3 linked regions of the Homo sapiens genome follow. The protein of the gene in region 1 purifies or fractionates together with the protein of each later gene. This does not show direct contact. Each region holds a gene or a part of one and is shown in the gene's direction. Other genes may lie near its edges.

The links.
Region 2: the proteins of AMOTL2 (region 1) and PALS1 purify together in Homo sapiens (affinity purification with mass spectrometry; 4 studies listed by BioGRID and IntAct, with this or other methods). This does not show direct contact.
Region 3: the proteins of AMOTL2 (region 1) and LATS2 purify together in Homo sapiens (affinity purification with western blotting; 3 studies listed by BioGRID). This does not show direct contact.

The regions. Positions count from the first base shown.
Region 1 is NC_000003.12:134,357,448-134,365,381, reverse strand, and holds part of AMOTL2 (angiomotin-like protein 2), read left to right. Parts: intron 1-3,574; coding exon 3,575-3,870; intron 3,871-4,968; coding exon 4,969-5,276; intron 5,277-5,878; coding exon 5,879-6,099; intron 6,100-6,662; coding exon 6,663-6,842; intron 6,843-7,618; coding exon 7,619-7,677; 3' UTR 7,678-7,934. UniProt on the Homo sapiens protein: Regulates the translocation of phosphorylated SRC to peripheral cell-matrix adhesion sites. Required for proper architecture of actin filaments.
Region 2 is NC_000014.9:67,328,435-67,336,098, forward strand, and holds the end of PALS1 (protein PALS1), read left to right. Parts: intron 1-4,345; coding exon 4,346-4,522; 3' UTR 4,523-7,627; downstream 7,628-7,664. UniProt on the Homo sapiens protein: Plays a role in tight junction biogenesis and in the establishment of cell polarity in epithelial cells.
Region 3 is NC_000013.11:20,973,923-20,981,586, reverse strand, and holds part of LATS2 (serine/threonine-protein kinase LATS2), read left to right. Parts: coding exon 1-121; intron 122-1,789; coding exon 1,790-1,896; intron 1,897-6,222; coding exon 6,223-6,717; 3' UTR 6,718-7,664. UniProt on the Homo sapiens protein: Negative regulator of YAP1 in the Hippo signaling pathway that plays a pivotal role in organ size control and tumor suppression by restricting proliferation and promoting apoptosis.

The DNA.
Region 1 (7,934 bases):
AGCTGAGCCATAGCAAGCCAAGTGGAGGCATCTGAGGCAGCCAAAAATGGGATCCTAGACCTTAACCAACAGATGCATTCTAAACGGGGCGGTCTAAGCATCCTTGAAGAATGGGCAAGTTCATTGACTAGTCCATTTATTCATTCATTAGCAGATGTGTTTTAAGCAACTGGCAGATGTTCAAGAGAGAATGGGAGCAGGCCCAGGAAGGTACCATGGCAGGGAGGTCAGGAAGGAAGTGGTGAGCTTAAGAAAGGAGCAGGTTCCCACAGATGCAAAAGAACAACGGGGGTGGCCCTAGAAACCGGTGATTAGGAGCCCCGGTGGCCTGAGAGAGGGGCTCTGTGGGGATGGCAGGGGTGGAGAGCCAGCCAGAGGTGAAGGAGCTATTGGGCAGTTCAAGAGGTACATGGGGTGGGTGGCAAAGGGAGCCCTGAGCTCAGCAGCAGGAGGCTCTAGCAATCAGAAGAGACTAAGAACAGTTATTTATTGAGCTCCTACTAGGAGCTTTAGTGCTGTTCAAGGTGTTTGCAGAGAAGTGGAATGGGAGTGGTTGGTAGCTGGGTAAACATGGCTTTGAGTCTTCACAGGAACCCTACTGTGAATGGCACAAAGGGTAGTGTGGGGTGCAGAAATGGAGGAGCAGCTTGAGGACTTAGCTCTGGCTGGCAGCACCCCTATCTTCCTTCAAAGAGGGTTCAAAGACTAGGGCAGGGAATGGGGGAACACAGCACTGAAGGAATTGACAGGGTGGGGCAGGAGGTAGGCTGGTCTCTTCTGGCTGGGTGGGGTGAGATGGCAGCGGCTTAAGGTCTCTGGGAAGGAGTCAAAGGGAAGGAGGGAGAAAGGGGAGGGGGCAGCCCTGGGGTTTCCCTGAGGAGTCTGGGGAGGAGAAGCTGCAAGGGCACGGCAGATTAGGGTGCCTGTGGAGGAAGGCGGACTTCTGGAGCCTGACTCTGCCAAAGAAAGGAAGCCATGGGGCGGGTTTCTGGGAGCTTGCTAGTGGGTGAGAAGAGGGGGGCCGGCCGGGAGGCGTTTCCGCTCCCCGGGGAGCGAGTGAGCGCCGAGCTGTTCTTGGCTCCTCGCTGGAGCCATTAATCTTGCAGCCGCGGGTGACCTGGATGCCTGGCATTCCAGAGCCGCGAGCTGTTCCGCTCCCGGCCCGCCCCCCGCCGCTCCCTCCCGTGCGCGCTGCCTGGCGCCCTTCGCCCGGCTTTGGGAGGAGGGAGGGTGAGCACAAAGGGAGCCTGGAACGTGGAGGTGGGGGCTCGCTCGCTGCCCAAGGCGCATCCCGGGTCCCGTCGGCGCCTCGCCTGCCTTCCTGCCCTCCTCCGCTGGCCTTCGGGCGTCCTCTTCCCACCCGCACCCAGACCACTTATTTCTTACTAAGGAGCTCTCCTTCCCGAGATCCCGCAGGCCCAAGGTTTTATCAGGGTCCTGTTGGTAGGGGATGGCCAGAGCTCAAAGCCTCCCAGCCCCCACCAGGGCCTTAGAGGTTGGACAAGGCTGCAGGAAGCTTCTGGAAGCAGAGGGCTGGGTCCTCCGGCCCCTTCCTCCCCCAGGGCTGAGGAAACCCAAGCAGCTCTTCCTTGCTCCCTAGTAGCTATTGCAAAGGGAGGTGTCTGATTGACCTCCCTTTTATCTGGGGTCAGTCAACACTAGGAAAGTGTGGCCATTATCACCAATGCCATCTGCTTTTCCTCCTAGGCAAGCCACGCAGCCCCCCAGCACTGCCCTTCTGGCCCTTCTAGGCCAGCAGTGCCCCCTGGGGATCTGGCCTTGAGGCCTGAGGCTGGCCTGTTAGCTCCACCCCCTTGGGAATATTTCTTCTCTCCCTGCGCCCCAGATTCTCCAGCTATAAGATGAGACAGAGTCCTTCCCCACAGAGTCATGCTAAGGCTGAAATGAGATGCAGGCCCTGGGCAAACTGAACGCACAGGTGGACTAGGGGAGGGTCCTCCCTGCCTGAGTCCCAACCTGGCTGCCCCTCCTCAATGGATGTTAACACCCCACTCAATGGATGTTAAGCCAGCGAAGTATGAACACATCCGTTTCAATATTATTGGACTTCCTCGTATTTTCCTCCATGCCACAGAATGATACCATCCTGGGCTCAGCCTTCAAACATCCAAAATGAATCAAGAGCTAACCTGAGTTGCCTCTGTGTCCTCCCTGCCCTGCCCCAGGGACCTGAGTAAATGAATCCTCCCTTCCACATGCCAAGGTCTCAAGCCTTCACCCTTCTGTTCCAGAACTTGCACTGTCCTATATGATAGGTACTTAGCTGCATGTGGCCCAAAGATTGAAATTAATGAAAATAAATTAAATTTAAAATTCAGTTCTCCCATCTTACTAGCCACATTTCCAGTCCTCAGTGGCACGTGTGTCTAGTAGCCACTGCATTGGAGGGTGCCGTATAGAACAATTCCACTCTGGCAGAAAATTCCACTGAATCAGAATGCTGTTCTAGAGACAGTGCCTTTAGGTTCATTAGCGGGAGCCCATAGCCCTGCCCCCCACCTGCTCTCCAGCAAGGTAGGCAGCTGACCTGCTCCTCAGGGGGCAGCCTGGGACTCTCAAGGGGCAGGTGCCTGGGAGGTGGATTTAAGGCTAGAACATCAGATGGAGGGCTCTGTGGTCTGGCTTGGGCTTCTCCTGGCCCTATGGAGAGGGCCTCTGAGCAGTTTCTTTGGGCAATTAACAAAATGATTTAAAAGTCAGGATAGCTTGACCCTTACACACTAATCTTTGGGCCATAGTCATTTTCACTGTACTGCAGACTTTGCATTTCCTTCTGAGCCTGGTTGCTTACATCTCAGTGTTCTTTTCAGACCATGGAAGGAAATGTAGCCCTCAACGGACCTCTCGGCCTGGGTCTGCAGAAGGAGCCCCAGAGCTCTGGGTGGCCTATAAGTACAAACGCCTCACCATGTAGCCAGAGGCAGCCTGGGCCTTTGTAGTGTGGCCAACTGGGGTTTCCATTTGGCAGCACCATTCACCTCCTATGTTTCTCCCCTATAAGTTGGGGATCCCAAATCCTCCCTGGAGGGGCTGGAGGATTCGTGGAATAAGATGTGTAAGGGCCTGGTGTGCCGACAGCCGATGGTGGTTCTGTTCCCCCTTCTTTCATTCTCCCACTGGAAGGAGGACCATGTCACAGCCTACCTGAGTCTCTATTTTCTCATCTGTACATGGGCATCACAGTTCCTACCTCAACAGTCTCGAGCCGTCACAAGGTTCAAGGGATATTGTGGATGTGTTTTAGACATGGTGCCCCTGGCACAAGTGGATGGTGTTTGGGGCTGTCCCATGGCAGTATGTCCCAGTAGAAAGGCAGGGTAGCCCAGTTGTTACTGCAAGGGTCCTGGAATTGGGCTCTGTCATTTACTCCTGACTTAACATGAGCCTTGGTTTCTTCTTCCATGAAACAGGGTTAATAGTGGTACCTTATTCCTGTTATTTTTGAGAGAATGAGAAGCAACTGTGCTCATCCAGTGGTCAGCACTGAGCCCAGGAGGCAATGGGGCCAGCCAACGTGGTCACTGTCACTGATCAAGCCTCTTTCTCCCTACAGGCTACGAACAGCAGCAGGAGCAAGAGAAGCTGGAGCGAGAGATGGCACTGCTGCGCGGCGCCATCGAGGACCAGCGGCGGCGTGCCGAGCTGCTGGAGCAGGCTCTGGGCAATGCGCAGGGCCGGGCAGCTCGAGCCGAAGAGGAGCTGCGCAAGAAGCAGGCCTATGTGGAGAAAGTGGAGCGGCTGCAGCAGGCGCTCGGGCAGCTGCAGGCAGCCTGTGAGAAGCGGGAGCAGCTGGAGCTGCGTCTGCGGACTCGCCTGGAGCAGGAACTCAAGGCCCTGCGTGCACAGCAGGTGAGCTGAGAAAGTCTCCAGGCTAGGGCAGCATCTGAGGATGTTGGCTTCCCTTCCTCCTCGGGGACTGTAGGTTTGGAGGCCAGGGCTGAGGCCCCGGGAGCCCCTGCTTAGATCTAGGCTGCAGGCCCGTTGGAAGGCGGCGAGGATGATTGCTCTCTGCTCCACCTTTGCTGCGTGCTCCCTTCCACTCGTTGTCTTAGTAGAGGCCCTGCCACCTGGCCCATGTCCAGCCTCGGGGGACTCCTGTCCTCGGCAGCAGCAGGGCTAGTTGTCCTTGACCTCTAGAGAAAGTAAGTCAGGAACCTGGATATAGAAGGCCTGCGAGCTTTTTTTTTTTTGAGATGGAATCTCATTCTGTCGCCCAGGCTGGAGTGCAGTGGCGCGAACGCTCACTGCAACTTCCACCTCCCAGGTTCAAGCCATTCTCTTGCCTCAGCCTCCCGAGTAGCTGAGACTACAGGCGTGCGCCACCACGCCCAGCTAATTTTTGTATTTTTAGTAGAGATGAGGTTTCACCATATTGGCCAGGCTGGTCTTGAACCCCTGACCTCACGTGGTCCGCCGACCTTGGCCTCCCAAAGTGCTGGGATTACAGGCATGAGCCACTGCGTCTGGCCACCAGCCAGCTTTTATATGCCTCCCCAAGATTGGGAGGAAAGATGGTTGTCCAGATCCACTGTGCTTAGCCTCACTTCGGACTTCTGTGTAAACAACTCTTGGTGTTTACAAACCAAATAGAGTTATTTCTCCACTCCCAAACCTACCCTTGCCACAGAGGTAGTGTGACTGAACCCCCTGGTTTGCCCAGTTCTGTTCTAATGTACACCAGTTTTCCCAGTATAATTATTGATAGCACCCCCTTTGCCAGTTTGGAGGATTATCTGTCTGGTCTCTATGCCCTTGCCCTAGGATTCAGGGCAGGGGTATGGGGACCTGTGCTGTATCCCCATTTCGGTAGAGGAAGGATGGGGAAATGTATGCTGTGTATGGCTGAACACGTACATGTACAAGTGACAGTCGTGTGGAGGCGAAGACCAGTGGCTGCCACACCCCAACCTGCACCCTTGACCACGGTCTCTACTCCTTGCTCTGCAGAGACAGGCAGGTGCCCCAGGTGGTAGCAGTGGCAGTGGTGGGTCTCCAGAGCTCAGCGCCCTGCGACTGTCAGAACAACTGCGAGAGAAGGAGGAGCAGATCCTGGCGCTGGAGGCCGACATGACCAAGTGGGAGCAGAAGTATTTGGAGGAACGTGCCATGAGGCAGTTTGCCATGGATGCGGCTGCCACGGCTGCTGCTCAGCGTGACACCACTCTCATCCGACATTCCCCCCAGCCCTCACCCAGCAGCAGCTTCAATGAGGGTCTGCTCACTGGTGGCCACAGGCATCAGGAGATGGAAAGCAGGTTCGGCATTGCAGGCCAGGCACCTGAGGTTGGGGGGGTGGGTGGCAATGTCCAGTCACTGCCCTGCCCTTGATCCCTGATAAACAGGCCCCTTTCCCCATAGAGCTCAGCAGTCCCTCCTGCTTCTGAGCTGAACCTGCATGATTGGCACACCAGGCACTGTAAACATGCATTTGCCCAGAAATACCGAGTCCTTGGTCTGCCCAGGAGACTCTTACTGTGGAGGTGTTGGGTGCCATCCAGTGCTTGGGCCCTGCCTCCCCTCTCCGGAGTGCCGCCCTCCAGGATGAGGGCTGTGCCGCCACTATCATCTGATGAATCTGGAACCCATCCTTAATGGCCTGCCTTTGCTGGTGTGAGAAGGGCCCAGGGCCTTATGCACTGGTGGTTTTCAGAGCCTGGGCTCTAAGAGCATCAAATTCCAGAGCTGTGGTGCCATTTCTAAGCCCTCTCTGGGTCCCTGCTACAAGCACAGAAGGATCCAGCCTGGCAGGGTTGGGGGAGTTGGGGGGGGCTTTTCCTCTAACTCCTATGAGGCAGGAAGGGTGGAGGCTGTTGGATCTGTGGGTCTGACAATGTGGGCATGGCCTCTCACCCCTCAGGTTAAAGGTGCTCCATGCCCAGATCCTGGAGAAGGATGCAGTGATCAAGGTCCTTCAGCAGCGCTCCAGGAGAGACCCTGGCAAGGCCATCCAGGGCTCCCTGCGGCCTGCCAAGTCGGTGCCATCTGTTTTCGCGGCTGCGGCAGCAGGAACCCAGGGCTGGCAAGGGCTCTCTTCTAGTGAGCGACAAACAGCAGACGCCCCTGCTCGGCTGACTACAGGTAAGAGGAGGCTACTGCTGGGATAGATTGAGAGGTAATTTCTCCTGGGCCTGAACACAGATTGCCAGACCTTTCCTCCCAGAACTGAGGCTATAGGAGCCAGGGCTTCCTGACCCTCTTCCAGGGGAGCTGGCTTATTCTCTGCCTCTAGTGACTCTACAGCGCAAGGCTCTCCTGCCAGTGTGAAGAGGGGTACTTAGTCCCCATCACCATAAATTCTATCATGCTTCAGCCCCAGCCACTGAACTAAGAAAAATAGAGCTTCCTGTGCAGATACACCTTGTATGCAAGCTCCCTCCACTCTTCCTTCTAAGCAGATGCCACAGAAACTCTAGAAGATTTAATCTATAAGGAAGGGTCCCACCACCCAAAACATTTGGAAGCCAATCCAATCTGGTAGTTATTCCCATTTGAAAATAGGAGCATTTTTAGTCTTAAAGTTCTTGCAAATCAAGAGCAGCCCACTCCACCTTGAATCCCCAGCAGGGACAGTTAACTTAGAGTGTCCTTCACCAGGGCCACATCTTACAGGCATGGCAATAACCATCCACCTACCTTTCCAGCAGACAGAGCACCCACAGAGGAGCCAGTGGTCACAGCTCCCCCTGCTGCCCATGCCAAACACGGGAGCAGAGATGGGAGCACCCAGACTGAGGGCCCCCCAGACAGCACCTCCACCTGCCTGCCACCGGAGCCTGACAGCCTTCTGGGGTGCAGCAGTAGCCAGAGAGCAGCCTCTCTGGGTAAGTCCTCCTGACCCCACTTCTGTGCTAGGTAGGGCCGAGGGGGCACTGGGGTGTGAACTGGAACACAAGGCCTTTTCTTCCCAGACCCCCTCCGGGTCATTGCCCGCACTCCATGGGGAGCCGTGCATAGCCAGAGGTGAGCAGGGTGCCTGGCCCACCTCAATGTGAACATGAGGGATGGCTGGTTGCATGAATAGGGAAATTGGAAACCCTGATTAGAGGCAGATCCAGAATTCAGAAAGAAAGCAACCAGATGGGAGGCACTTTAGCTCCTCTTTCATGGTCTTCCCTACATAGTTAATTTCCAATTTGATTATCCAAGAGAATGGAGCTCGCAAGTCATGCCGATGGCACTCTGGAAGCCTGTTTAAAGAGTCCGGGAAGGAGAAATCTGAGAAGATGCCATTTCTTTTTCCACTCCCCTTTCACATTGGCCTTTGCATATTTGCCTGTGCCTCATGATCTCAGAAAACCACAGGCATGAAAAGAATGCTGCAGCCTGCCTCCCTCAGGGCTCTCCATTGCTCTCTCTAAGCCCTCCAACCAGTTCAAAGTTAGAAACAAATGCATCCTACACATCGGAGGTTGGTGGGCTGGGCTGAGCACTGAAAGGGGGCAGAGCATTGTGCTTGGTTGGCCGAGTTCTGGGAACCTGGGCAGCAGAGGTGGGAAAAGTTGGTGAAGAACGATCTTTGTCTTTCAAATGTGCCAGGATTTTAAAAGCAATCTAGTAACACTCATTGGCATGTGCCTGTGTTCTTGTCTGTCTCCAGACTCTGTAGCTACATCCAGAGTCCAGGACTTGTCAGACATGGTGGAGATACTGATCTGAAGGAGGTGGTGCTTCAGGACTCTGAGCCATTCTCTCCCCTCCTCTGCCCTGTGCCACTCTCAGCCATTTCAGCAGCCCCGTCAACCGCTGCTCCGTCCCTTTCCCCAGCCAGACACTCATTCCCATTGACCATCTGGTCCCAGGAGCTCAGGAGGAGGACCCCAGGGGAGAGGAGAGCTGTGAGAGCACCGGCACCCCCAGAAGACTCTGCTTCTTAGCCCACATTCCTCCGGGCCTTATGGAGAATGAGGATTCAG
Region 2 (7,664 bases), on another chromosome or scaffold:
CTATTCACTCTGATGGTAGTTTCTTTTGCTGTGCAGAAGCTCTTTAATTAGATCCCATTTGTCAATTTTGAGTTTTGTTGCCATTGCTTTTGGTGTTTTAGTCATGAAGTCCTTGCCCATGCCTATGTCCTGAATGGTATTGCCTAGGTTTTCTTCTAGGGTTTTTCTGGTTTTAGGTCTAACATTTAAGTCTTTAATCCATCTTGAATTAACTTTTGTATAAGGTGTAAGGAAGGGATCCAGTTTCAGCTTTCTACATATGGCTAGCCAGTTTTCCCAGCACCATTTATTAAATAGGGCATCCTTTCCCCATTTCTTCTTTTTGTCAGGTTTGTCAAAGATCAGATGGTTGTAGATGTGTGGTATTATTTCTGAGGGCTCTGTTCTGTTCCATTGGTCTGTATCTCTGTTTTGGTACCAGTAGCATGCTGTTTTGGTTACTGTAGCCTTGTAGTATAGTTTGAAGTTGGATAGGGTGATGCCTTCAGCTTTATTCTTTTGGCTTAGGGTTGTCTTGGCAATGCAGGCTCTTTTTTGGTTCCATATGAACTTTAAAGTAGTTTTTTCCAATTCTGTGAAGAAAGTCATTGGTAGCTTGATGGGGATGGCATTGAATCTATAAATTACCTTGGGCAGTATGGCCATTTTCACAATATTGATTCTTCCCATCCATGAGCATGGAATGTTCTTCCATTTGTTTGGTCCTCTTTTACTTGGTTGAGCAGTGGTTTGTAGTTCTCCTTGAAGAGGTCCTTCACATCCCTTGTAAGTTGGATTCCTAGGTATTTTATTCTCTTTGTAGCAATTGTGAATGGGAGTTCACTCATGATTTGGCTCTCTCTTTGTCTGTTATTGATGTATAGGAATGCTTGTGATTTCTGCACATTGATTTTGTATCCTGAGACTTTGCTGAAGTTGCTTATCAGCTTAAGGAGATTTTGGGCTGAGACGATGGAGTTTTCTACATGTACAATCATGTCATCTGCAAACAGGGATAATTCGACTTCCTCTTTTCCTAATTGAATACCCTTTATTTCTTTCTCCTGCCTGATTGCCCTGGCCAGAACTTCCAACACTGTGTTGAATAGGAGTGGTGAGAGAGGGCATCCCTGTCTTGCGCCAGTTTTCAAAGGGAATGCTTCCAGTTTTTGTCCATTCAGTATGATATTGGCTGTGGGTTTGTCATAAATAGCTCTTATTATTTTGAGATACGGCGGACGCATCACTTGAGGCCAGGAGTTCGAGACCAGCCTGGGCAACATAGTGAAATCCTGTCTCTACTAAAAATACAAAAAACATTAGCCAGGCATGGTGGTGCACGCCTGTGGTACTGGCTACTGAAGAGGCCGAGTTCGTGCTACTGCACTCCAGCCTGGGCAACACAGCAAGACTTGGTCTCAAAAATAAATAAATAAATAAATAAATAAATAAATAAATAAATAAATAGATATAGAAACTAAGAAGATGATGGTGTTACTCACTGGATGCAAAATGTAACCAACCAGTTATGTAATTGTACTCTGAATCTGTTCTTCTAGTATTGTGAAAGAATGGTATTGGCATAAAGATGTGATTTTTTTCTTGTATGTATTGTTAAAGTCACAGAAAATCATCTATATTGTGGTAAGAGAGAATATATGCCAGACAAATGCTCTGCTGTCTGTCAGAAAGAGGAATAAAGACACAATCTGGAACCAGGAAATAAATAATAATAATAATAATTATTATTATTATTATCAAAAGGAATAATCAGACACTTTAGCAAAAGAAATAAGTTGGAGGGCATTTGTCTTTATTGTCTCTTTTCTATTTAATTCATTTCTTTTTATGCTTTCTTTGACTATAATTTGCACTTGCTTTAGTTTCTCAAGATGAATGCTTAATTTTTAAACTCTTCTTTTCAAATGTAGGCATTTGAAATTATAAATTTCCCTCGAAACAGTTCTTTAGTTGCATCCCGTAAGTTTTGGCATTGTATTTTTGTTACCATTTTGTTAGAAGTATTTTCTAATTTCCCTTCATTTTTTTTTTTTTTTTTTTTGAGATGGGGTTTCGCTCTTGTTGCCCAGGCTGGAGTGCAGTGGCACTATCTCTGCTCACTGCAACCTCTGCCTCCCGGGTTCAAGCAATTCTCTTGCCTCAGCCTCCCGAGTAGCTGGGATTATAGGCATGCACCACCACGCCCAGCTAATTTTGTATTTTTAGTAGAGATGGGGTTTCTCCATGTTGGTCAGGCTGGTCCCAAACTCCCGACCTCAGGTGATCCACCTGCCTCAGCCTTCCAAAGTGCTGGGATTATGGGCCTGAGCCCCCGGCACCCCGCTTCCTTGTTTTTCTCTTTAACACATGAGTTATTTAGAAGTATGTTATATAGTTTCCACCTATTTGGAGATGTGAAAAAGATTTTAACTGATTTATAATTCCAGGTGGTCAGACCCTGAAAGATGTCAGTCTTTTCAAATTTGTTGAGCCTTATTTTATGGCCCAACATCTGTTCTTTCTTGGTGAATGTTCTGTGCACACCTGTTAGGATGTGTATTCCACAGTTTTTGGTGTAGAGGATGGTGTATCTGATTGTATTTATTCTACTTAAGTTTTTTTCTCCTGTGATATTTCTTTCTTTTTTTTGAGACAGAGTCTCACTCTGTCGCCCAGGCTGGAGTGCAGTGGCACAATCTTGGTTCACTGCAACCTCTGCTTCCTGGGTTTAAGTGATTCTCATGCCTCAGCCTCCCAAGTAGCTGGGATTACAGATGTGCACCATCACGCCTGGCTATTTTTTGTATTTTTAATAGAGACGGGGTTTTGCCCTGTTGGCCAGGCTGGTCTCAAGCTCCCGGCCCCATGTGATCCACCTACCTTGGCCTCCCAAAGTGCTGAGATTACAGGCGGGGGAGCCCCTGCGCTGGTATTGGTATTTCTAATAGTGCTTTATTACTCAATGATAGAAGTGCTGAAGTAAAACAGATTTTCAATTTTAACTCTATAAAATTGTGCTAAGAAAATGATGGCGTTACAAAATGTAACCAACCGGTTATCTAGTTGCATTCTGAATCTCTGAATCTGTTCTGCTAGTATGAAGGCTTGAGAGTGGCTATCTAGCAGTATGAACTTATTGTCAGTTTTGCCTAGTTCAGCTAAAAATTTTGAGCTAAAACATTTTGTTTCATCTTAGTCGTGGATTGTAATTTGAAAGAGAACTTCAGACATGAAGTACTAAATAAGTGATATAAGCCATTTTGGCACAAAATGGAATAACAATGCCTTAAATTTGATAAAAACTAGGTGGATTCGGGCTTTATCATTTTCATTTCAACTCCAATACCACAAAGTTTCAGTTCTCTGTGGAGTCCTAGAATGTTCTTCCAATAATCTTGAGCTTACGGTAGACATAAGTTTTAGCAAAAATGTCAGTGTGTTCAGTTACAGTGGTGAAGTAGATTCCCTGCTGGGAACAAAGGATTCTGTGTGCCATATTCAGATGTACAACATTCCAGAATGAGAGTCATGCAAGAAACTGCCTCAGGACAAGCCAGAGTTGTCATATTTTTAATATGTTTTCTTACTGTTACAGAAGTTCAAACAGTTGAATGATATAAATTGTTTTGTACTATGGGTCCAATATAGTATTGATGTGTGACTTTTATATCTGAGACATTTTGTCTTGAGTTTAAGTTAGTTGTCTTCATTGGCAGGGGTGATTTGAGGTGAGTTTCACTTTCTTGAACCCATGTGCCTGATAATTAGAGGGTTCAGGATAAGTTTTGCACATAGCCTTGCTGCCTGCTTATCTTTGTAAAATGGCCCTTTCCTTCAGTCAGTATTTTAAAGTAGGCTACTCTATATAGTTTCCCAAACTCTGGTAGGATACTTTTAACTCTCTGCAGCAGATAGTATAGGGCAAGGGCTCTTTACTAGAGCCAAAAGTAAATGGCATTTTAGGTCCTTGCTCCAACCAGAAAGGTTCACTCCATATTACAGATGTTACTATTAGGAAGAGGTTATAGTGTCTAGAATGTTTGAAAACAAATGTTTGTAGGGAAACAGTGTGTGTTCTTGAAGCTTGTAGTTTTGTTGGTGAGATAAGACAAAATATGTGAAAACCTAAATAGTGGTATAAAACAGGATATATTGAGTCCCAGATGGTTCATAATATGAGTCGTGAAGATGCCAAAGCAAAGGTAACCATTGTGGCCGTGACAGGGTTGGAAAGGAGCTCCTGAGGTTGGGAGAGACAGAAGGAAAGCTATGAAGGTCGCTCCTTGTTCTTTGGCCATCTCTGACTCATCCTATATTATTTGGTTAGGAAAGGAATTATCTCACAGTTTTTATCTTCTGTTTGCAGCCTGAAGAGTTGAGAGAAATCATTGAGAAGACAAGAGAGATGGAGCAGAACAATGGCCACTACTTTGATACGGCAATTGTGAATTCCGATCTTGATAAAGCCTATCAGGAATTGCTTAGGTTAATTAACAAACTTGATACTGAACCTCAGTGGGTACCATCCACTTGGCTGAGGTGAAAGAAACATCCATTCTGTGGCATGTTGGACTTGATCTGGCAAAAACTGCCAATAGGAGGACTGCCCGACACTGCAGCAAGATTGAGGATAAGATGGAAGGCAGCAGTATAAGCTGTAGATCTGTTCTTAGATCTCTTGAATTAGTGAGACGACAGTTCCCTTAGGCAGTTTGTGCATGGCATCCTTTATTCTCTATACATGGCTTTAGCGGTTCTTGCCTCATTTTGGGATTCTAAATGGAAGCTTTCAACAGAGCATTCCATTTTGTCCTGTTAAAACCTTTTGTTTTCACCTAAACCCTTTCTGCTTAGTTGTATCTCTGTGAAAAACTTGTATACACAAGCGTCCATGTCTCACACAAATATTGATGTGATTATTCTTAAGTGTTAAATCATTAACACTTAAATGACTTCATTGGGAATATTGAGCAGAGGGACTGTGCTTCTATGCACTGGGCAAGGCAGTATTTGCTTAGGAAACTAATTTAGTCATCAGAGATACTTTCCTAAAAAGGAAAAATAAAAAACAAAATGGTGCCACTTTGGGTTGAAGCTACTTTGTTAGGCTTGAATTCATTTATATGTCTTTTGATTCTTAAAAAAACAAAAAACATTCCATTAGAAGCACCAGTTTTTTTGCTCAGACTTTGTGGATCAGACTCTACACTCAACACACTCTAATCTACTTAAAGGTATACAAAATATGCTGATCTTTTTTAAATTATGATTTCCTGAATTTTTTTCTTAAGTCGTCTCAACTGATTTACTCACTTAGCTTCCCTTCCCTCATCAGCATAGTATAATAGAATGTATGTTACATTTTTATGAATGGCAGGTGTTCATTATAATCTGTATTGACTTAAAAAGTTTCTTCCTCATGATGCTAATAGTTTTTTGTATACATGGGAGGATAGCACATTTGACAGTTTTTGCATTTTTATGTATGAGCACAGTATCCTATGACTGTGCTACGTATATATAGGTAATAAACTGGAATTCTGTTGATGAATATAGCTGCTGTACTGTATATTAATATTTAATAGATCAACAAATGGTCATTGAAAACACTTGTTTAGCATTAGAATAAAATTATATATGTCCTTGGGAAATATTATGACAGTTGACTTTAAGATCAAAAGGAAGGGAAGACCTGAAAGTCATTTGAACATTTTAGGAAAAGAATATTGGAGAGAAAAAGGTATTAAATATATAGAAATAGGTTTTTAACCTAACAAGGTCTGCCTCTTATGACGAGAATGCAACAGCTTGGTAAATCATAAAAGAAACATTTAAGCTAATAGGATTTTCGTACTGTCTCTATAGCTGTAGCTTTAAAATTCAACGTATATAATTGGCATGGAAACTTAATTTGCAGTCTTTTCAAGCCTTTAGGATAGTGTGATGTGTAACAAACAACCTCAAATGTGAATGCCTTGATTTTATTTTTATGGTGACTTTAGCTACAGCATTTCCTATACCCAGAGCTAAACACTGGAATAATACTGACATCATTTAATTTAACATAAGCAATTATGTTTAAGGAGTAATTTGTGTCATGTACATATTTGATTGATTTTTTTTCTTCTACATAATTTTATTTGAACAAATGTAGACAGTTTATATGTCGCCTTTTTCTGTTCAAATTTGCATGGCCTATTAAGTTGGCTGGAGAGTGTTTTATGTGGAAATATTTTCAAGATAATGTTCCTTAGGAAGAAAATAACATTCTTGGGTTGAGGGAAGGAATGCCATACACTACTGTCTCTTCAGATCTGAAATACTCCAGTTTAGAGCCAGGAAATTTCACAGGTCACACCGATTTTTAGCATTAAAAACTAAGGAATATACTTAGCACTTACTTAATCTTTTCAGTTTTCCAGTTTACGTCTCAGGAATGAAGTGTAGTCTATGGTTGACAATGGAGTTTTGTGATCCTGCTTATTGTAACTGACAACTGTTTTCAACTCCAAGAGCTAAACTATTGGCAGTTCATGTTAAGTTAGAGTGAGGGTGTAGGTAGTGTCAGTGAGTGGCTCTTGTGCCTGCTGTAGACATTAGGCCTGCACTAGGGCCATGTGCTGTCAAGATTCAGGAACATGGCTTTAACAAGCAGATCTTGTATCAAGGCAGAGGTGATGCCATGCCATACTTTTAGGAAGTCTGAGATGATAAATATTTCAAGGTCAGTGAAGTCTATCAATCATTCTCCCCTTCCTCATCAGCAATGGTAGATAGAAATGTCCTAAACTTTTCTAAATCCTAGTGATGAGGATGTGCTGATATTCAACATAGTCCTTAAAGTGAAAACTGAGTTGTTGCTGACCTCCACAAAAGAATATGGAAAAAAGCCTTGCTGTACACCTAGTTGTACAGCCACTCTGGCCAATTCCATTTCCTGTCCCTCTGTGGTTCTGACTGGAGACCCCAGTGTGGGGGAGGTCTTACCATTTAATATAGAAATGATATCAATAACTAATGCTATGTACTTGGAAAATCCAAATAAGGAAGTTTTAGGTTGGTGCATAACTTTGTTTCTCAAATTTTCGTTGTCAGAACAAATGGAAGGAGAATATTATTTAGACTAATCCAGATTTGCTTTCTATGAAAATCTAATGTCTGGATTATCTTCCTTTTCTCATGGCCTAAGAAATAAGGATCAATAAGGAATGATTTGAATGTAATTTTGTGAATGTGTGGAAAATATAAAGCAGGGATTTAGCCTTAATAAAGGTAACCTTCTGACATCTGTTGTTAATCCCCCTTTGTACTCTTTTCCTGTATCTGCACTGTTATTTTGAGATGTCATACTGTACACTGTATTGTAAAAATAAAAAGTAAAATTATATTTCAAATTTTAAAAGCCACTAAGCAATTTCTCTTGCTATTTGCTCGGCCACTCAAGGTTTCCACACATGTAAAGACCACCCTCCTCTTCAAGTTTTTGCCAAAAGCAAGACCATTGGATCCTCCAGCTACAACACAAAATACTTTTTGATTTGTTCTTTACAGAGGGATAGTGCCCCCTGTTGGCACAGGTATAGGTAGGTCCTGTTTCCTTAATTATTAAAACCAACAACTAAGTGTATTAAAGATGGACAACGCAAGGCTGTGAACTTGAAAGTTTTCTGGAGAAGGAGGTATGT
Region 3 (7,664 bases), on another chromosome or scaffold:
CGGTGTGGGGACAGGCTGAAGACCCTAGAGCAGAGGGCGCGGAAGCAGCACCAGAGGTGCCTGGCACATTCACTGGTGGGGACTCCAAACTACATCGCACCCGAGGTGCTCCTCCGCAAAGGTACATGCGCCATGGCCAGCCACCCCGCAGGAGGTCTCCTTCCCTTCAGACGTGAGCTGAGTCTCGCTGGCTCTAGCTTTCCAAGGACCTAATGCTTCCAGTCATATTTTTGTCCTCATAGAAGCCTGAAAGCTACTAATTTCTGCAACATACAAGCCTCCCTCCTGTCCTGGAAGTGCTCTTGCTTCAGGGGGTTGGAAGACATGCACCATTAGACCAGTGTCTGCTGGCCCTCGGGCTCTACCTAGACCCAAGGGAATGACTCCAGCCCTGATTTTCACAGTCAGATGATGGAAACCACTCTGAGGGCCACAGGACCTCTGCTCAGTCTGCCCAGACCACACATTTCCGGGCTCTAGCTTTAACTTCTGTCTCAGGCTCCTGGCTGAGTTGTGCCGTGTGCAGCTGGGTGCTTATGTGACAGCGTTGGAAGATCCTTTTTCTCTCATTCTCCCTGCTAGACCATAAGCAAAAGTGGCAGGTGCCAGTTGTGTAAAATGACTAGTGCTCATAACATTTGCCTCCTGGATGGATGCTTCATTCTGTCAAATGCAACATCTGGTTCAGTATAGGAGGAATCCTTCAGTGATCCTGCATGGTCCACAGTGACAATGGGGTGTAATTAATCCAGAGACAGGCAGCCCCTGCCATCACATGTTGTTTAAAGTCCTTTGGAGCCAGCCAGACTCAGTTCAAGTCTGGGTTTTCTTTGCTAGCTGTGGTAATCCAGCACAAGTTACTTAACTACTCAGACCACAGACATAGCAATAACGACCTTGAGAGGTTGTGAATAACCTTGGTGCCCAGTGAAGGTCTACTTCCCTCTACCACGTGCAGCATTCTCAAGAAACCATTGCTTGGGGTTTTTCTGCAGCCTCTGTTGCCAAACTTGGACAGGAAGAGGTGGGACGGAGAGATAGCAGAGGGGCCTGAGGGGGCTACCCTGGCATATGCAGCTGCAGGCACCCGCAGACTGACCTCTTAACATCCCAGTTTATACTTAGCAAGGATTAGGTGACATGAAGACGATCCTGGCTTGATGGGTCATGAGGCTCTGAAGGAAAAGTGGGAGAAAATAAGAGGTAAACGAGCCTAGCCTACAGCCTCCCAGAGGCCAGCCCTGACCCAGCACAGCTGGGAGCCCCGTGAGGAAGGCCCGGCTCCGTAGGGGCCTCACACAAGGAGTGTTTGGCTTACAGTGAATTGTCCGGTGGGTTTTGCCCACCTCCTCCTCATCTCCGTATTCTTCAGCTTCATCCAAAACTGACTTAGAAGCCTCCCTTGACCCTCACCTGACTATTCACAGGTTATAGCACTTTATGTTTTTCAGTTCTGTTATTTTAATTGGTGCCTCTGTTTGTGATCTTTAAGAACATAAAATTCTGGCTAGTAACTATTTGCTAACAATAAAAATAATCTTTTTAAATTAAAAAGTATTTTCTTATTACAATGATTAAAAATACAAAAACCTAAGCGGCCATGGCCACCGCCCCCCACCACCCCACCCAGTAGTATCCAGGTACTTACATAGGTCCATCTTGCGCACAGTGCGATGCTTCAACGCGCTTTCCCACTTAACAGGAAATCTGTATGTTCAGCATCTTAATGAAATTCACCTCGGAGGAGAATTCATGCCTGTGTAGGGATTGAGTGAACTTTGTCTTGCAGGGTACACTCAACTCTGTGACTGGTGGAGTGTTGGAGTGATTCTCTTCGAGATGCTGGTGGGGCAGCCGCCCTTTTTGGCACCTACTCCCACAGAAACCCAGCTGAAGGTAATGTGAGAGGAACCACGCATCTGCTTGCTGTAGACATCTGATTTGCTCATGTACCCATGAATCTTTGGTCAGCATTTGCCCTCTTATTCTGAGTAGGGTAGGAATGGCAGTTGTATAGGATGGGATTTTTAAAAATAATCTCATTATTTTTTAAATTATCTATTTTTAAATTTTCTATTTTGATAAGCAAAGCCATGGAATTGGACCCATTTTAATATCTGAAATTCTATTAAACCCTTGGCCATCTGCCACCTTGCTATTTCCAGGCAAGAACAGTGAGGATCAGCAAAGGTGTGCTGCTGATCCACTGTCTCCCCCACCCACACCTGCCCTGCAGAGAACACACGGAACTCCAGGAACTATAGTTCACCCCTCAGCAATGAGGGGTTTGGGGTGCCAAACCCCCTGCACAGTCAAAAATCTGCATAACTTTCAACTCCCCAAAAACTTTACTAATAGCCTGTTGACTGGAAGCCTTACCAGTAACATAGCGTCAATGAACACATATTTTGTATTTTATATGTATTAGATCCTGTATTCTTACAATAAAGCAAGCTAGAGAACAGAAAATGCTGGCCAGGCGCAGTGGCTCATGCCTGTAATCCCACTACTTTGGGAGGATCATAGGCTGGGCGCAGTGGCTCATGCCTATAATCCCACCACTTTGGAAGGCCAAGGTGGGCAGATTACCTGAGGTCAGGAGTTCAAGACCAGCCTGGGCAACATGGCGAAACCCGTCTCTACTGAAAATACAAAATATTAGTCCATCATGGTGGTGTGCACCTGTAATCCCAGCTACTCAGGAGGCTGAGGCAGGAGAACCACTTGAACCCAGGAAGCAGAGGATGCAGTGAGCCGAGATCACACCACTGCAGTCCAGCCTGGGTGACAGAGTGAGACTCTGTCTAAAGAAAAAAAATCATAAAGAAGAGAAAATAGGTTTACTATTTTAATAATTGAAAGTGGATCATCATAAAGGTCTCCATCTTTGTCATCTTCATGTGGAGTGGGCTGAGGAAGGGGAGGCATTGGCCTTGCTGTCTCAGGGATGGCAAAGGTGGAAGAAAATGCTAGTGTAAGTGACCCTCAAACTGTGTTGTTCAAGGGTCAACTGTATCTAAAGAAAGCAGTTTCTTTATTTGGATATTATATCATTGTTCGCAAACTGTCAGCTATGTGGTCAGGCTAGTTGTGCATATTCCTAATATTCATTCAAAGTAGTTAAATAATTGTCAGTCATTTAATACTAAATTATTAGTTTTAAAATGACAGCCATTTGCTTTCTGAAATGAGTTACTAAGGGTTGAACTGAGAATTGAAATTAAGAATCTGCAGTCTTCTGTGGACATACCAACTGACACACAGTCCTTGGAATTTTCACATGCCCTGGTGGTCATGTGAGCCACCAGGGCATGTGGTTATTAGGCCAGGGAGCCTAAATTAATAACTTTAATTAGAAAATCTGTCTAGTAAGGTTGGGCGTGGTGGATCATGCCTGTCATCCCAGCACTTTGGGAGGCGGAGGCGGGCAGATTACGAGGTCAGGAGATCGAGACTAGCCTGGCCAACGTAGTGAAACCCCGTCTCTACTGAAAATACAAAAAATTAGCCTGGCATGGGGGCGGGCGCCTGTAGTCTCAGCTACTTGGGAGGCTGAGGCAGGAGAATCGCTTGAACCCAGGAGGCAGAGGTTGCAGTGAGCCGAGATCACGCCACTGCACTCCAACCTGGATGACAGAGCGAGACTCTGTTTCAAAAAAAGAAAAAAGAGAAATCGAAAAACCCTAAAGTAAGGCTTAGTTTCACTCTAGGAACAGTAAAATTGGAATCTGGCATTATCTGCGCCCTAATTGAATGGCTGAGCTACTCACTAAATTGCCCACATGATAATTCAGATTTTTTTATTCTGGTAAAATATACATAACATAAAATTTACCATCTAATTATTTTAATGGTAAATTAAAATTTACCATCTAATTATTTTAATGGTAAATTAAAATTTACCATCTAATTATTTTAATGGTAAATTAAAATTTACCATCTTAATTATTTTAATTACCATTTATTTAATAATTATTTTAATTATTTACCATTTTTAATTATTTTAGTGTATAATTCAGTGACATTAAGTACATTCACAATATTGTGCAACCATCACCACCCTCTATTTTCAAATGTGTTAATCGTCCCAAACCCATTAAACAGAAACTCCCCACTCTCCTTTTCAGCACCTGCTCGCCTCTCTTCTGCTTCCTGTCTCTGTGAGTTTGGTTATGCTTAGGACTTTTTTTTTTTTTTTTTTGAGACAGGGTTTTGCTCTGTATCCCAGGCTGCAGTGCAGTGGCACAATCTTGGCTCATTGCAACCTCTGCCTTCCGGGTTCTCATGCCTCAGCCTCCCAAGCAGCTGGGATTACAGGTGCCTGCCACAACACCAGCTAATTTTTGTATTTTTAGTAGAGATGTGGCTTCATCATGTTGGTCAGGCTGGTTTCAAACTCCTGACCTCAAGTTATCCACCCACCTCAGCCTCCCAAAATGTTGGGATTATAGGTGTGAGCCACTGTGCCTGGCCTCGGGACTTCTTGTAAGTGGAGTCATGCAGTATCTGTCTTTTTGTGTCTAGTTTATTTCACTTAGCGTAATGTCCTCAGGGTTCATCCATTGTTGTAGCTTCCTTTTTAAGGTGGAATAATAATTCCACTGTATGAGTCCCTGCTTCCGGTTCTTTTGGATATAAACCAGAAAGTGGGTTTATATCCCACTGGATTATATGGTCGTTCTGTGTTTAACTTTTTGAGGAACTCCCAAACTGTTTGCCATAGTGGCTGCACCATTTTACATTCCCACCAACAGTGACTGAGTGTTCAGTTTCCCTACATCCTCAATAAGTATTTTCCTGTTTTTGTTTTTTTTAAGTAGTAGCCACCCTAGGGGATGTAAGGTGGTATCTCATTGTGGTTTTGAGTTGTATTTCCCTAGTGTTTAATTATATTGAGCTTATTTTCATGTCCTTATTGGTCATTTGTATATCTTTGGAAATATCTCCTCAAGTCCATTACCCTTTTTAAATCAACTTATTTGGTTTTGTTATTGTTGTTGAGTTGTAGGAGTTCTGTATTTTCTCTGGGTACTAACCCCTTTTCAAATACATGTTTTGAAATCTGTTCTCCCATTTTGTTGCCTTTTTGCTATCAGTAATGTCCTTCGATGCACAAAAGTTTTAAATTTTTATGCAGTCCAATTTATTTTTTCTTTTATTCCCTGTGCTTTTGGTGGCATGTCTAAGAAATCATTGCCAAACTCAGGTTCATGAAGATTTCACCCTATGTTTTCTTCTAGGAGCTCTACAGTTTTAGCTCTATGAAAACAACTACTTAGGTTCAAACCAAGCCTACCACCCACACACCCACTAACTTCCATGCCTTATCCGCTGTCCCATCACCCCAGCTGGTAGCCAGTCATGTTGGCCTTGTTTCCTCCTGATTCTAAGTGTAAACAATAAAGAAGTCCCCTAGGTTTTGTCTTCACAGTAGACACATCTCTACAACAAGTGCATTTACTGAACGTCCAGATGGCTGGTTTGTGCAGTTGAGCATGTAAGGTCACATGGGGTCAGTCAGCTTTATTCTTCCCTATGAAGTTTTTCCTGTTTGTTTTTCAAAACCCCAGTTGGCCGTTTTTTGACCGCAATAAGTATTTGAATGAGCGTCATGATGGTTTGCAGAAAGCCATTGCCATAGCTAAAGAAATAACTTTAGCTGATCACCTGAGGTCAGGAGTTCAGGACTAGCCTGGCCAACGTGGTGAAACCCTGTCTCTACTAAAAATACAAAAATCAGCCGGGTGTGGTGGCAGGCGCCTGTAATCCCAGCTACTCGGGAGGCTGAGGCAGGAGAATCGCTTGAACCCAGGAGGCGGAGGTTGCAGTGAGCCAAGATCGCACCACTGCACTCCAACCTGGGCAACACAGCGAGACTCCATCTCAAAAAAATAAAAAGAAAGAAAGAACTTGTAGACCATCATTCTCTTCATTTTTGTGGAAAGCACAAAATTCTTTGGCTAAACAGTATTTCTGATAGAAGAAAATCAGTATCTTTTTGTCTGTATTTGACTGGTCATCCTGGCCTCAGGCTGTGAGCCATCGACTGAAATGACACTGACTTTTTGTGGCTGCTGAGATCAACAACTGCTGCTTGTGTCTATTCTAACTCCTCTCCTATTGTGAAACTAAACATATTTGAAAGTCACGTCATCACACGCTGTCCCAGAACTGCCCAAGATGTGAGGAGAAACTAACCTGTTGGCTCTGTTGTTTCCTCAGGTGATCAACTGGGAGAACACGCTCCACATTCCAGCCCAGGTGAAGCTGAGCCCTGAGGCCAGGGACCTCATCACCAAGCTGTGCTGCTCCGCAGACCACCGCCTGGGGCGGAATGGGGCCGATGACCTGAAGGCCCACCCCTTCTTCAGCGCCATTGACTTCTCCAGTGACATCCGGAAGCAGCCAGCCCCCTACGTTCCCACCATCAGCCACCCCATGGACACCTCGAATTTCGACCCCGTAGATGAAGAAAGCCCTTGGAACGATGCCAGCGAAGGTAGCACCAAGGCCTGGGACACACTCACCTCGCCCAATAACAAGCATCCTGAGCACGCATTTTACGAATTCACCTTCCGAAGGTTCTTTGATGACAATGGCTACCCCTTTCGATGCCCAAAGCCTTCAGGAGCAGAAGCTTCACAGGCTGAGAGCTCAGATTTAGAAAGCTCTGATCTGGTGGATCAGACTGAAGGCTGCCAGCCTGTGTACGTGTAGATGGGGGCCAGGCACCCCCACCACTCGCTGCCTCCCAGGTCAGGGTCCCGGAGCCGGTGCCCTCACAGGCCAATAGGGAAGCCGAGGGCTGTTTTGTTTTAAATTAGTCCGTCGATTACTTCACTTGAAATTCTGCTCTTCACCAAGAAAACCCAAACAGGACACTTTTGAAAACAGGACTCAGCATCGCTTTCAATAGGCTTTTCAGGACCTTCACTGCATTAAAACAATATTTTTGAAAATTTAGTACAGTTTAGAAAGAGCACTTATTTTGTTTATATCCATTTTTTCTTACTAAATTATAGGGATTAACTTTGACAAATCATGCTGCTGTTATTTTCTACATTTGTATTTTATCCATAGCACTTATTCACATTTAGGAAAAGACATAAAAACTGAAGAACATTGATGAGAAATCTCTGTGCAATAATGTAAAAAAAAAAAAAGATAACACTCTGCTCAATGTCACGGAGACCATTTTATCCACACAATGGTTTTTGTTTTTTATTTTTTCCCATGTTTCAAAATTGTGATATAATGATATAATGTTAAAAGCTGCTTTTTTTGGCTTTTTGCATATCTAGTATAATAGGAAGTGTGAGCAAGGTGATGATGTGGCTGTGATTTCCGACGTCTGGTGTGTGGAGAGTACTGCATGAGCAGAGTTCTTCTATTATAAAATTACCATATCTTGCCATTCACAGCAGGTCCTGTGAATACGTTTTTACTGAGTGTCTTTAAATGAGGTGTTCTAGACAGTGTGCTGATAATGTATTGTGCGGGTGACCTCTTCGCTATGATTGTATCTCTTACTGTTTTGTTAAAGAAATGCAGATGTGTAACTGAGAAGTGATTTGTGTGTGTGTCTTGGTTGTGATTGGATTCTTTGGGGGGGGGGAACTGAAACATTTGTCATATACTGAACTTATATACATCAAAAGGGATTA